Linked DNA regions of Homo sapiens. The protein of the gene in region 1 purifies or fractionates together with the protein of each later gene. This does not show direct contact. Each region holds a gene or a part of one and is shown on either strand. Other genes may lie near its edges.

Evidence for each region.
Region 2: the proteins of NPAS2 (region 1) and CIPC purify together in Homo sapiens (affinity purification with mass spectrometry; one large-scale study listed by BioGRID and IntAct). This does not show direct contact.
Region 3: the proteins of NPAS2 (region 1) and PALD1 purify together in Homo sapiens (affinity purification with mass spectrometry; one large-scale study listed by BioGRID and IntAct). This does not show direct contact.

The regions. Positions count from the first base shown.
Region 1 is NC_000002.12:100,962,988-100,966,638, forward strand, and holds part of NPAS2 (neuronal PAS domain-containing protein 2), read left to right. Parts: intron 1-1,070; coding exon 1,071-1,189; intron 1,190-1,873; coding exon 1,874-1,956; intron 1,957-2,672; coding exon 2,673-2,779; intron 2,780-3,651. UniProt on the Homo sapiens protein: Transcriptional activator which forms a core component of the circadian clock.
Region 2 is NC_000014.9:77,111,645-77,115,295, forward strand, and holds part of CIPC (CLOCK-interacting pacemaker), read left to right. Parts: intron 1-1,780; coding exon 1,781-2,674; 3' UTR 2,675-3,651.
Region 3 is NC_000010.11:70,565,757-70,569,091, reverse strand, and holds the end of PALD1 (paladin), read right to left. Parts: intron 2,512-3,335; coding exon 2,359-2,511; 3' UTR 642-2,358; downstream 1-641.

The DNA.
Region 1 (3,651 bases):
CCTAGGACAGTAATGCCCTCCTAGATGTTTGAGAAGATGTAAGAAGATGCGTGAGAGCAGATTTTGTCACCTGGGCCACACTAGGGAACTAGCAAGTTTTGTTGTAGGCGTTGTGTTCCTCTGGGGGTGACCCCTAAATCCTGAGCCCTGTCTCCTCAGTGGCCCAGACCCAACCCCTGTATCAGCCTGGGCTCCCAAGGGGGAGTTTCAGGACAGAGGCCCTTGAACCCCAGGTATGCCAGCCAAGACAGGGGCAGGGAAGGGGGTGTCAATGATGCCGAGACACCCCTACTTTCCCTGGGACCATCAGTATCAGGAACACTGATTATAGAATTCACCTTAAAACACTGGCTGGAGTATTCAAACCGTTACTGCAGAATGAGGCTGTCTTCTCTTTTTTTTGTTTGTTTTGTTTTGTTTTGTTTTGTTTTGTTTGGAGACAGAGTCTTACTGTGTCACCCAGGCTGGAGTGCAGTGGTGCTAACTTGGCTCATTGCAACCTCCGCCTCCCAGGTTCAAGTGATTCTCAGCCTCCCAAGCAGTTGGGATTACAGGCACACACCACCATGCCCAGCTAATTTTTGTTTTTGTTTGTTTGTTTGTTTTTTAGTAGAGATGGGGTTTCACAGTGTTGGCCATGGTGGTCTCGAACTTCTGGCCTCAAGTGATCTTCCCGCCTCAGCCTCCCAAAGTGCTGGGATTACAGGCGTGAGCCACTGTGCCTGGCCTGTGTTCTCATTTTGTAGACTATTTTTCCCAGCATTATAAGCCATAGGGCTAGTGGAAGTGAGAGGCAGTGCTGAATGCTGGTGACCAGCATGGGCTCAAATCCCAGCTCTAGCAAGCTTTTTGGTCTTGCACAAGTTACTTCCCTCTGTTCCTCGGTTTCCTCTTTTTGCAATGGGAATAATAGTTGACCTACCTCATCCAGTTGTGAAAATGAAATGAGTTAATATACTCTACATAAACCCTGGGGGCAGCGCTTGGCTTACAGTTAAGTGCCAACTAGGGATTGGCTGCTGTCACCAGACAGGGCTAACCTATGTGTCCTCTTCTTCCCAACCCCCCAGTGCCTAGCCCCTCCTGTAATGGTTTTGACAACACCCTTTCAAGACCTTGCCGGGTGCCACTAGGAAAGGAGGTTTGCTTCATTGCCACCGTTCGTCTGGCAACACCACAATTCTTAAAGGCAAGTACCTGAGAGGCAGTTCATTGTGCGGAGCTGTTATGATTGACTCACATTTTGTTATATGTAATTAATGGTCTTTTGGGAGGGAATAAATTGCAGTGAAGTTGTCACTGGCTTTGAAAATCGAAGTGTCTGGCTTCTGTGCCTGCACACACGCCCTTTCCCCTGCCCCGTTTCCTGCAAGTGGTTCTCTTTGAAGGCAGCATCGCTTGCTGTTCAGCCCGCAGAAGTGCTGTCTGATAACTGTAAATCTTCCCACCTTTCACACCGGCGTTAATACCATGCAGGCCAGGCCTGGGTGAGAACCGAGTGTTGGAGCGCTGGGGGTTTGTCTGCCTTCTCTCATCTGTGATTGCTTCAACATCGATGGCATGAATGTTGAGTTAAATGAGTAATTCAGATTCCGATGAAAAGCCATTTTCCACATGTTTGCCACTTCTCGATAATGGGAAGGGATGGTGTGACATTCTGGCTCCTAGGTATTTTTCCCTAGCTTGTGAAATAAATTTAGTATCAGCTAATACCGAAATTAGCTACAGATGATGAGTTTCAGTCCAACACGACTTGGAGACTTGCTCGAAATGATTTTAACTTCTGTTACCCACCACGCGTTCCTCTTGAACAAACCTAGGGTGAGCATCTGGCACCCAAGCAACTTTTTTTTTTTTTCTGCTTCCAATACAGGAAATGTGCATAGTTGACGAACCTTTAGAGGAATTCACTTCAAGGCATAGCTTGGAATGGAAATTTTTATTTCTGGATCACAGGTTTGAGAAAAGAAAAACATATTTGGGTTGGGCCCTTCTCAAGTCTTGTTTGCGTGAGCCAGGCTCTCCTTGGGAGAGAAGAGTCGGCCCTGGTCCATTGAAAGAGGAGGACTCTCTGGCACTAGGAAAAGTCGTCCCTGCCAAGGGTGGGTGGTTTCCCTCCAACTTCATCTGCCCCATCGTGAATATGTTCTGTGTTTGGGTCTGATGGCTCAGCCCCGGGCCATCTTTGGGATGATCCTCACTTGAGGCCCTTCCCGGCTCCCAGTAAGGCAGCAGCAAGTGTGAGAGAAATCTCTCATCTCATTTTTTTCAACATCCTTTGATCTTTTAGCCCAATCTTTACTGTTTCTTTTGTAACATTATTTGCAGTTGAAGAACTCCAAATCTCCCCTCCCCACCCTTTAATTTATATTACACTTTGGTGTTGGGCTGATCCAATTTGTAGCTGTTTTTAATTACCCAGTAGTGATAAAGCTTATTGTTATTTGGGCCAAGTTATGCCAAGGGAAAGGAGTATCTATATGCCAAAAAAAAAAGCTGAGCCCTTTGGAAAACACAGCCTCTCTGATTTTGACCATTACAAAGTTATTTTTCTCCCCTTGTTCTTGAGAAATGAGGCCTCCATGTTGATCATTATGGAAAGGCATGGCCACCAGGGTGAGCCCTGCAGGGTGTCTCCTCCCTGATGACAAGTCCTCCTTGTCCTTGTGCAGAGCACCTCCAATCATAGGATACCTGCCTTTTGAAGTGCTGGGAACCTCAGGCTATGACTACTACCACATTGATGACCTGGAGCTCCTGGCCAGGTGTCACCAGCACCGTGAGTACCACTGCCCAGCCCAGGCATGGGGGCCTTGCGTTCACTCCACTGGGGCCCAGCAGCAGGGCTCTGGGACTCCAGAAGCCTCTGCTCGTTACCTGGTTTCTTTTTAAGGTGAGGAACTTGGTTTTCTCTGAGATGATCTGGGGGCATGGTGGAGGCCCCTTATCCGCGTCTACCCCCATGTCACTGGAATTCACTTGGCCCCAAACCCTAGCACCTTCCCACTGTCATCCAGATAGGCGCCCTGTTTAAACCTAATTAAGAAATTAAGGTGATGCAGGGATTTTTTTTTTTAAGTTATGCAATACATTTCAGAGATAAAATACCGAATTCTCATAACTGTTCTTTCATCAGCAGATAAGTATTGGTCACTAACCATAGGCCAGATACTGAGTAGGCTGGCATATGGGGATGATCAGTACCTACTTGCTGTCCCGCAGGGCAGGTCTTCTGGGAAAGCCAGAAATGGGTGACTTTGTGGGATGTGGTCGGTGCATTGAAGGGGATGTACACAGCATACTGGGGGACTCAAGAGGACCCTCACAGCTGGGGTTCAGGGAAGGCTCTTTGCCACATACGAGGCGAACACATTAGCAAATGTATGGGGGATGGGACTTACGATGTGGGGGAGTGAGAATTACAAGCTTGTCCGAGTTCTCACTTAGCAAGTGGTTTCAAGAATTAACCACTTACAGCTGTATTTTCAGTGCCAACTCTTAACTTGAAATAGGAACACTGACCTATTGATCCTAATGCATGAATCGACCACTAACATTGTGCTTTAAAAGATGCCTCACCTGTAGTACCCATTAGAACTTTTTTTTTTTTTTTTTTTTTTGAGACAGACAGATTCTCGCTCTGTCACCCAG
Region 2 (3,651 bases), on another chromosome or scaffold:
GTCCAAGTCTAAAATTTTGTTCTGTATTCCCTCAGGTGATTTCCACATGAATAATACAATTTGTAAAATCTAATAATTGGAACAAGTCAGCTAAGTATCTGTTAGGAGAGTGGGCATAACAGTAGCATTAGGAAGTACAGTCCAGTAAAATCATGGGAAAACAATGCATTAGATATTTTCCAGATCCATTTGCCTTGTAGGTCATCCCTAGAGAGGGCATGAAGTTTTGCTTCTGACTGAGCTGGAACAGGCTGATTTCTACTTCAAAAGACCTCTTGATTTTGGATCTCCTATGACAAGGAAATATGGTTTCTGGCCCTAGCATTGCTTGCCTTAGTATATTCCGGAGTATATTTGAACATCAAGAGGACTCTAGATCGTTCCAGCCTTTGCATGGGAAATGAACTGGCCTAAAGTTCCTAACCTTGCATCCAAGAAACTGAAATGTGTGCAAAATGGTGCGCGCATGTACATGTATGGGAAGACAGTTCGTAATGTTCTTCAGATAAATCAAATGACCCCACCTGACCCCACTGATGATGTGAAACTCTGTCAGGCTTGCCCTCTGCCTGGCTTTATCTATACTCAGATTTTGGGGACCAGGTTGGAACTGGATTGGCTTTCAAACATTGGAGACAAGTAGCCATGTCCTTCTTTATTAGATTTCGTCTGAATCAATACTTTAATTAAAAAATAATGTATAATTGAGGAGTAATAAACAAAGGCAGTATAGCAGAATGGCTCAGATGGGTTTTAGAGTCAGACAGAGGATGGAATCCTAACTGCATCACTTAGTAACTTGATGACTTAAAACAAGTTTTTTCGACTTTCTAAGCCTCAGTTCCCTGTTTATGAAGGGAAATGGTAACTGCCTCATGGGGTTTTAAATAGATTAAGTAACTCATGTAAAACATTACACATAGTGGTAACCTATAATCAGCACCAATACATGGTAGCTGTTATTATTTTGAATGGTTTTATGATTGTTGGATGTCACTGCCTTAAAAACAGGAACCCATAGACTCCTGACAATATGGGTTTTTTTCTTTTCTTTCTGTTTTTTTTTGTTGTTGTTGTTGTTTTTGAAACCAAGTCTTGCTCTGTCACTCAGGCTGGAGTGCAGTGGCGCAATCTCAGCTTACTGCAACCTCCACCTCCCAGGTTCAAGCGATTCTCCTGCCTCAGCCTCCCAAGTAGCTGGGACTACAGGCGCACACCACCAAGCCCAGCTAATTTTTTGTATTTTTTAGTAGAGACGGGGTTTCACACGTTGGCCAGGCTGGTCTCGAACTCCTGACCTCAGGTGATCCACCTCCCTCAGCCTCCCAAAATACTGGGATTACAGGCATGAGCCATCACACCTGGCCCAATATGTTACTTTTTAATCAAAAGTTATTTTCAGGTAAAAGAGGTTCCAGGTGTGACTAAATGAAGATACACTTTGGTGTAAAGTCACATTTTAACTTACACCAGGAAATCCATATTTTTGTTGTTTCAGTTGTGACCTTAGCTATGTCATTACTTTACCTACCCATTTATTTTTCTGAGTGATAGCACTTGAATAAAAATAGGTATTTCCTCCAGTTTTCCCTTAGAAAAAGTTTAAAAAGTATTTGTGATATCAGACACAAATAGATGTTCAAACCACTATGTGAGAGAAGCACTGTCCTTGAAATTGTTCTAAGCATTTGAGTATCCACTTGCCCCTTTGACAGAAGCTTCACTCCTCTATCCTTTCAGCAGTAATGAGTAGTGTGCTGCTCTCCTCCTTTGTCTTCAGGGCAGCAGCTCATCCCAGCTCCAGTCGTGGACTGTCCAGCCCTCCTTTGAAGTGATCTCAGCACAGCCACAGCTCTTATTCCTTCATCCACCTGTACCATCTCCTGTCAGTCCATGTCACACTGGTGAGAAAAAGTCCGACTCCAGGAACTACTTGCCCATTCTGAATTCTTACACCAAAATAGCCCCACATCCAGGCAAAAGGGGCCTTTCCCTTGGCCCAGAAGAAAAAGGAACAAGTGGAGTGCAGAAGAAAATCTGTACTGAGAGACTTGGGCCTAGCTTGTCTTCCAGTGAGCCAACCAAGGCTGGTGCTGTCCCATCCAGTCCCTCGACGCCAGCACCACCCAGCGCCAAACTTGCCGAGGACTCAGCTCTGCAGGGTGTGCCCTCTCTGGTGGCAGGTGGAAGTCCACAGACTCTTCAGCCGGTATCCAGCAGTCACGTGGCTAAAGCTCCCAGTCTGACCTTCGCTTCCCCCGCCAGTCCTGTCTGCGCATCAGACAGCACTCTCCATGGGTTAGAGAGCAACTCTCCCCTTTCACCACTGTCCGCTAATTATAGCTCACCTTTATGGGCTGCAGAGCACCTCTGCCGCAGCCCAGATATCTTTTCAGAGCAGCGGCAGAGCAAACATAGGCGCTTTCAGAATACCCTAGTAGTCCTACATAAATCTGGTTTGCTGGAGATCACTTTGAAAACCAAGGAGTTGATTCGTCAGAATCAGGCAACTCAGGTAGAACTAGACCAGCTAAAGGAGCAAACCCAGCTGTTTATAGAAGCCACCAAGAGCAGGGCCCCTCAGGCTTGGGCCAAGCTGCAGGCATCTTTAACACCTGGGTCCAGTAATACAGGCAGTGACCTAGAAGCATTCTCTGATCACCCAGCCATATAGCACAGAGGCATATTTTCCTGTTACTTGAGTGGTTCTTTTAGCTCATTTGCTGTTACCTACTCCTGTTTCCCAAAGCTTATGTAAGAGCTTTTCCTTCTAAACTTAAACTGTGTTGTGGTTCACTTAGGAAGCCACGTGCCAATACCTGGCTGCTGTCTTAACTCGTAGTCTGGGCACAGGATACATATGTCCCCGTCCCACTGAGGACCTCAGTTTGGGAGTGCCCTTGAGCCCCTTTTCCTTAGCCTGCAGGTGCTTCAATGGATCATGGGGCAAAGCAGGAGATGATTGTGTGGGGCTCTTCCTGCTGTCACCTCCCATCATCCCACTCTCTCACCAGGATCAAGGGTACAGTAACACGAATGAGCATACAGAGCAACACCTGTTGAGCCAGGGAGTAGGTGACACAAGGAAACCTTCATGGATCTTCCCTTGCCTGTCTTAGTCACAGAGAGAAATAAGAGGAGGTTGTTTGCATCCCACAAGGCATCGTACTAGTTGGGCGAGACCTAAAATTCCCTGGGCACAGGTTGCACCTGGGTGTGAGCACTTAATCACTCAACGCTTTGTTTTCTTACACTTGAAAATCAAGGGAAAGAGTAGTACCATCTGACTCCTACACTTTCATTACAAGTCAGATTTTTCTTAAACTAGCAGGCAAAAACAGTACTTCCAAATTTTAAGGTATGGAATGAATGCAGTACATCTGGAATTGTAGTCGATGAATTGCTTTTTTGACTTAGAAGCTGAAGAAAATAGACATAGCCGGCATATCTCATGGTCAGGAGCTGGACGATTCTGGTAACTTAGGCTTTTTTTCTCTCTTCTTTTGAAACAGTGTAACCTGTTTTATGTCTAAAAATCTTAAGGATAGTTTCAGTGGTTCCTGGGATGTAGTATAAGTTAACTCTGCTGCCATCTTGTTTTTTTTTTTTTTCCTTTATTTTGATAAGTGATTATTATGCTTGATAAACTTT
Region 3 (3,335 bases), on another chromosome or scaffold:
TACCCTGCTGGGCTGGGAAAGAACCCCCGGGGCCTTCTCTCCTAGTCTGGGGAGAACACCAACCCTAGGGGCGGTGGGGGCTCTGGGTTCCATTCTGCCCACCCCAGCTGACCTCGGAACTACAACCTTGTTCCCCTAACCCTGCAAGCATGGGGGAAGAGGCCTGGAGTCAGTGCTGTCTCTACCCCACCCTCCCCACTGACTCTTTAAATGCCAGCACTCAACCAGGGGTGAGGTGTGTTCAATCAACCAGAGGCCCAAAGGGGTCAGGTGGGGCCCACAGGGGTTAGGGGAGAAAGTGGAGGCTGAGATCCAGGCTCCTTCACAGGCCCCCAATTCCACTTTGCTCTATACTGTTTCCCTAGATGCAGCAATCCTTCATATGTTAGTGAGAATTCGCTGGTTCCGTTGCTTTCTTCAAGGAGGAGCTCAGCCTGACATCCAGTGTAAGAGGGTGAGGCAAAACTGGGGATGCGTGTCTGCAAAAACCCGCCTGCTCTAGAGCTGGAAGTGCCAAGAACAGGTGCTCTCAACTCACTCTGCCTGCCCACCCTTACTCTGAAGGGGCAGGGACCTCAGCCTGTTGTACCAGTTCTAGAACGTCTGTCTGACACTAAAGACATATTAGCAGCCAGGTGCACTCACATTTAGCTGTTTTTAATGCTTAAAAGCTCTGTACAAAAAAAAAAAAAATCACAAATGAATCCTCACAACACCCCTGTGAGGTAGGTAGGCAAGTATTATTCTCCCATTTTACAGATGGGGAAACTGAGGCAGAGAGGTGATGTGATCAGCCAGTGGTCCCAACACAGCTGAAAGTCAGAGCCAACCATGAGAACACAAAGGATCCCTCCCCATTCAGTCCCATCTCTGACTCCGCATCTAGACCTTGTCTGCAAAGAAATTAAAACGTCTTAATTCATGCAAAAATAAAAACAATAAACCTGAAAAGGTAGTGAACAGACACACAGTAGTTCTGCAAAAGAATTCAGCCAAGGGGGTCAAATATTTTCCAATACTGGATAAATGGGAACAACTTCGGCCTCCTCCCCTTTTCAAATATCATGACCAATGACACATCCTTTTTTTTTTTTCCTGCAGAAGTACACGAGCCTAACCAAAGACAGGCTTTCCTGGTCCCAGTGAGCCAAGCAAGGTGGACAGCCTCCTCACTGTTCAGCTCCTGGGTTTCAGCAAGCACCAGTCCCCAGCTGGAAGAGCTGCAAGGCTCAACGCAAACATGGCACTTCTCTGCCACCTGTTCCCAGCAGCCTTCCCGCTGTGTGGAAACAGTGGATCCCAGCAGCCTCTAACTCAGCAGGGTCTGGCCTTTTCTGCTCCCACCGGAAGGCAGGCTCAAAGATGCTCAGCAAGGATGGCCTGGAACCCAGGTGATCCCCTCCCACCACCCTCAGTGCACCCTTGCACACCTCACTGTCCATGAGGACCACCCCAGCAACCACCCTCAGCTAGCACTCCTTGGGGCTCCTGCTGCAGCAGGTGGGGGCACCAGGCCATCCTGGGCTGCCGGGACAGAGAGAGATGCCGGGGGACCTGCAGCTCCAGGCCTTGGCTTCCTCTGTGCCTCCTGCCCAGGTTCCCAGACAAGTGGAGCAGGCCTCTTCCTCTGTGCTGCGTTCGCCCCCTGGAAGCTCTTTCCTCCCCATGAGAGGGGCTCCCTGAAGTCTCCAGCTCCTTGAGAAACCTCCACCATCCTGCCAGCCCCACCAGGCTGGGTAGGTTGTCATTCCTGAAGTCTCCCAGGTCGGAGATGGGGGCATGAGAGTCCAGAAAACTGGGTGAAGCTGCCTTTCACATAATAGATCTATCCAGAACACTGTCCCCTCCACCCACCTCAGGCTGCCAGACGCCCGAGGGCAGTGCTTGGGCAGCAACAAGGGGAGCGGCAATGGCAGAGCAGCAGGAGTAAGGAAGTGGGGAGCTACCAGTGGCCGGGTCTGCTCTGTGCCAGGGGCTGCCAGGCCAATCTGAGAGAGGGGAGAAGAGGACAGAGAGATCCACAGTGTTTGGCAACTGGGGGAGTGAGCCCCTTGGAGGCTGAACGCCGGCCTGTCTGCAAGGTACACACAGCAGTGTGCACCTTGTGAGCACTCCAGTGAGTGCTCCTCCCTGGAGGTCAGCCACACACCTTGGTGGTTTGCAAGGGATGGCTGTGCTGTCTCCCTGTCCTATAAAAAGTTCTTTCTAAAAAGGCTCCCAACTCCGCTCAGTCTCTCCAGGAAGTGGGGGAATCATTTCAAGGCCAGCACCCCTCAGGGCCGCTCCCAGCCAAGAGCACCTCAGACACCCCAGGCCTGCGTGGGGCCCTGTGGGTGGGGGGACAGGGAGTAAGGCCCCCTACAGCAAGTCCTCGGGGGCAGAGGGCTCGAGGCTGCAGCTCTGCTCCTGCCACCGGTAGCGCAGCCTGGAGAAGGGCTGGTCCTCCCCGCTCTCCAGCTCGGGGAAGCCCAGCTCGTTAAGGATCTCGTAGATGCCAGCCTTCGATGCCACCTGGGAGGAGAGCAGAGGCAGGAGCAGTGTTTCAGGGGAGGGAGGGTGCCACTAAGGCCACTGAGTTCTGAAGATGAGTCTGTGGCCTGTGAACTTGGTGACCTGAACAAGTTTGCACCTTGACTTCTGTTAACTTCTCTGAGCGTCAGTTTCCTCATAGCAAGGAAAAGACTCTACCTCACAGGACTGTCTCAAGGAGGACTCTACACATACAGAAAGTACTGGGCAGACAGTGAGTGCTCCACACAGATAGCAGCGAGGGAGGCCAGGCACACACTGGGCCCTGTGCAGCTCGATGCTCCCACGTGGACGCCCAGGAGCAGGGCCTAAAGGGAGGGCTGGAGGAAGAACGTGGATGCAGGGGCAGGTAAGGCTATGGCCTCTGCCCCAGGTGGGCTAGCTGGAGGCACCCCTGGACACTCAGCCCTGCCGCCCAGCAGCCCAGACCCTGGCACCAGACTCAAACCATCCACAACCAGTCCCCTTCTCTCTCCACCATCCTGGGGAAGGGGAGGGTGCAGCCTCCACTTAGAACAAAGGAATGGGTCCGTCCCGCTCTGGGGCCTCCCTCACTGCTACCCTCCACTCATCCGCAGGAGAGAGGGGCTGAGGTCCCGAGGCTGGAACCCACACTTCTGCCTGGACCGGCAGCCCTCCTTTCTTGACCTCCCCCAGCCCCAGTGGGGGATTCAGCTGGGGAGGGGATCAAGCTTCCTCTCGGCCCCAGGCTCCCCCAACTTCTGCTCTCCAAGCAGAACCCAAGCAGGAAGTGTCCTCATCCCCTTCCACCTCCACCCCTCCCCAGGGGCTCGCAGAGGAAGCTG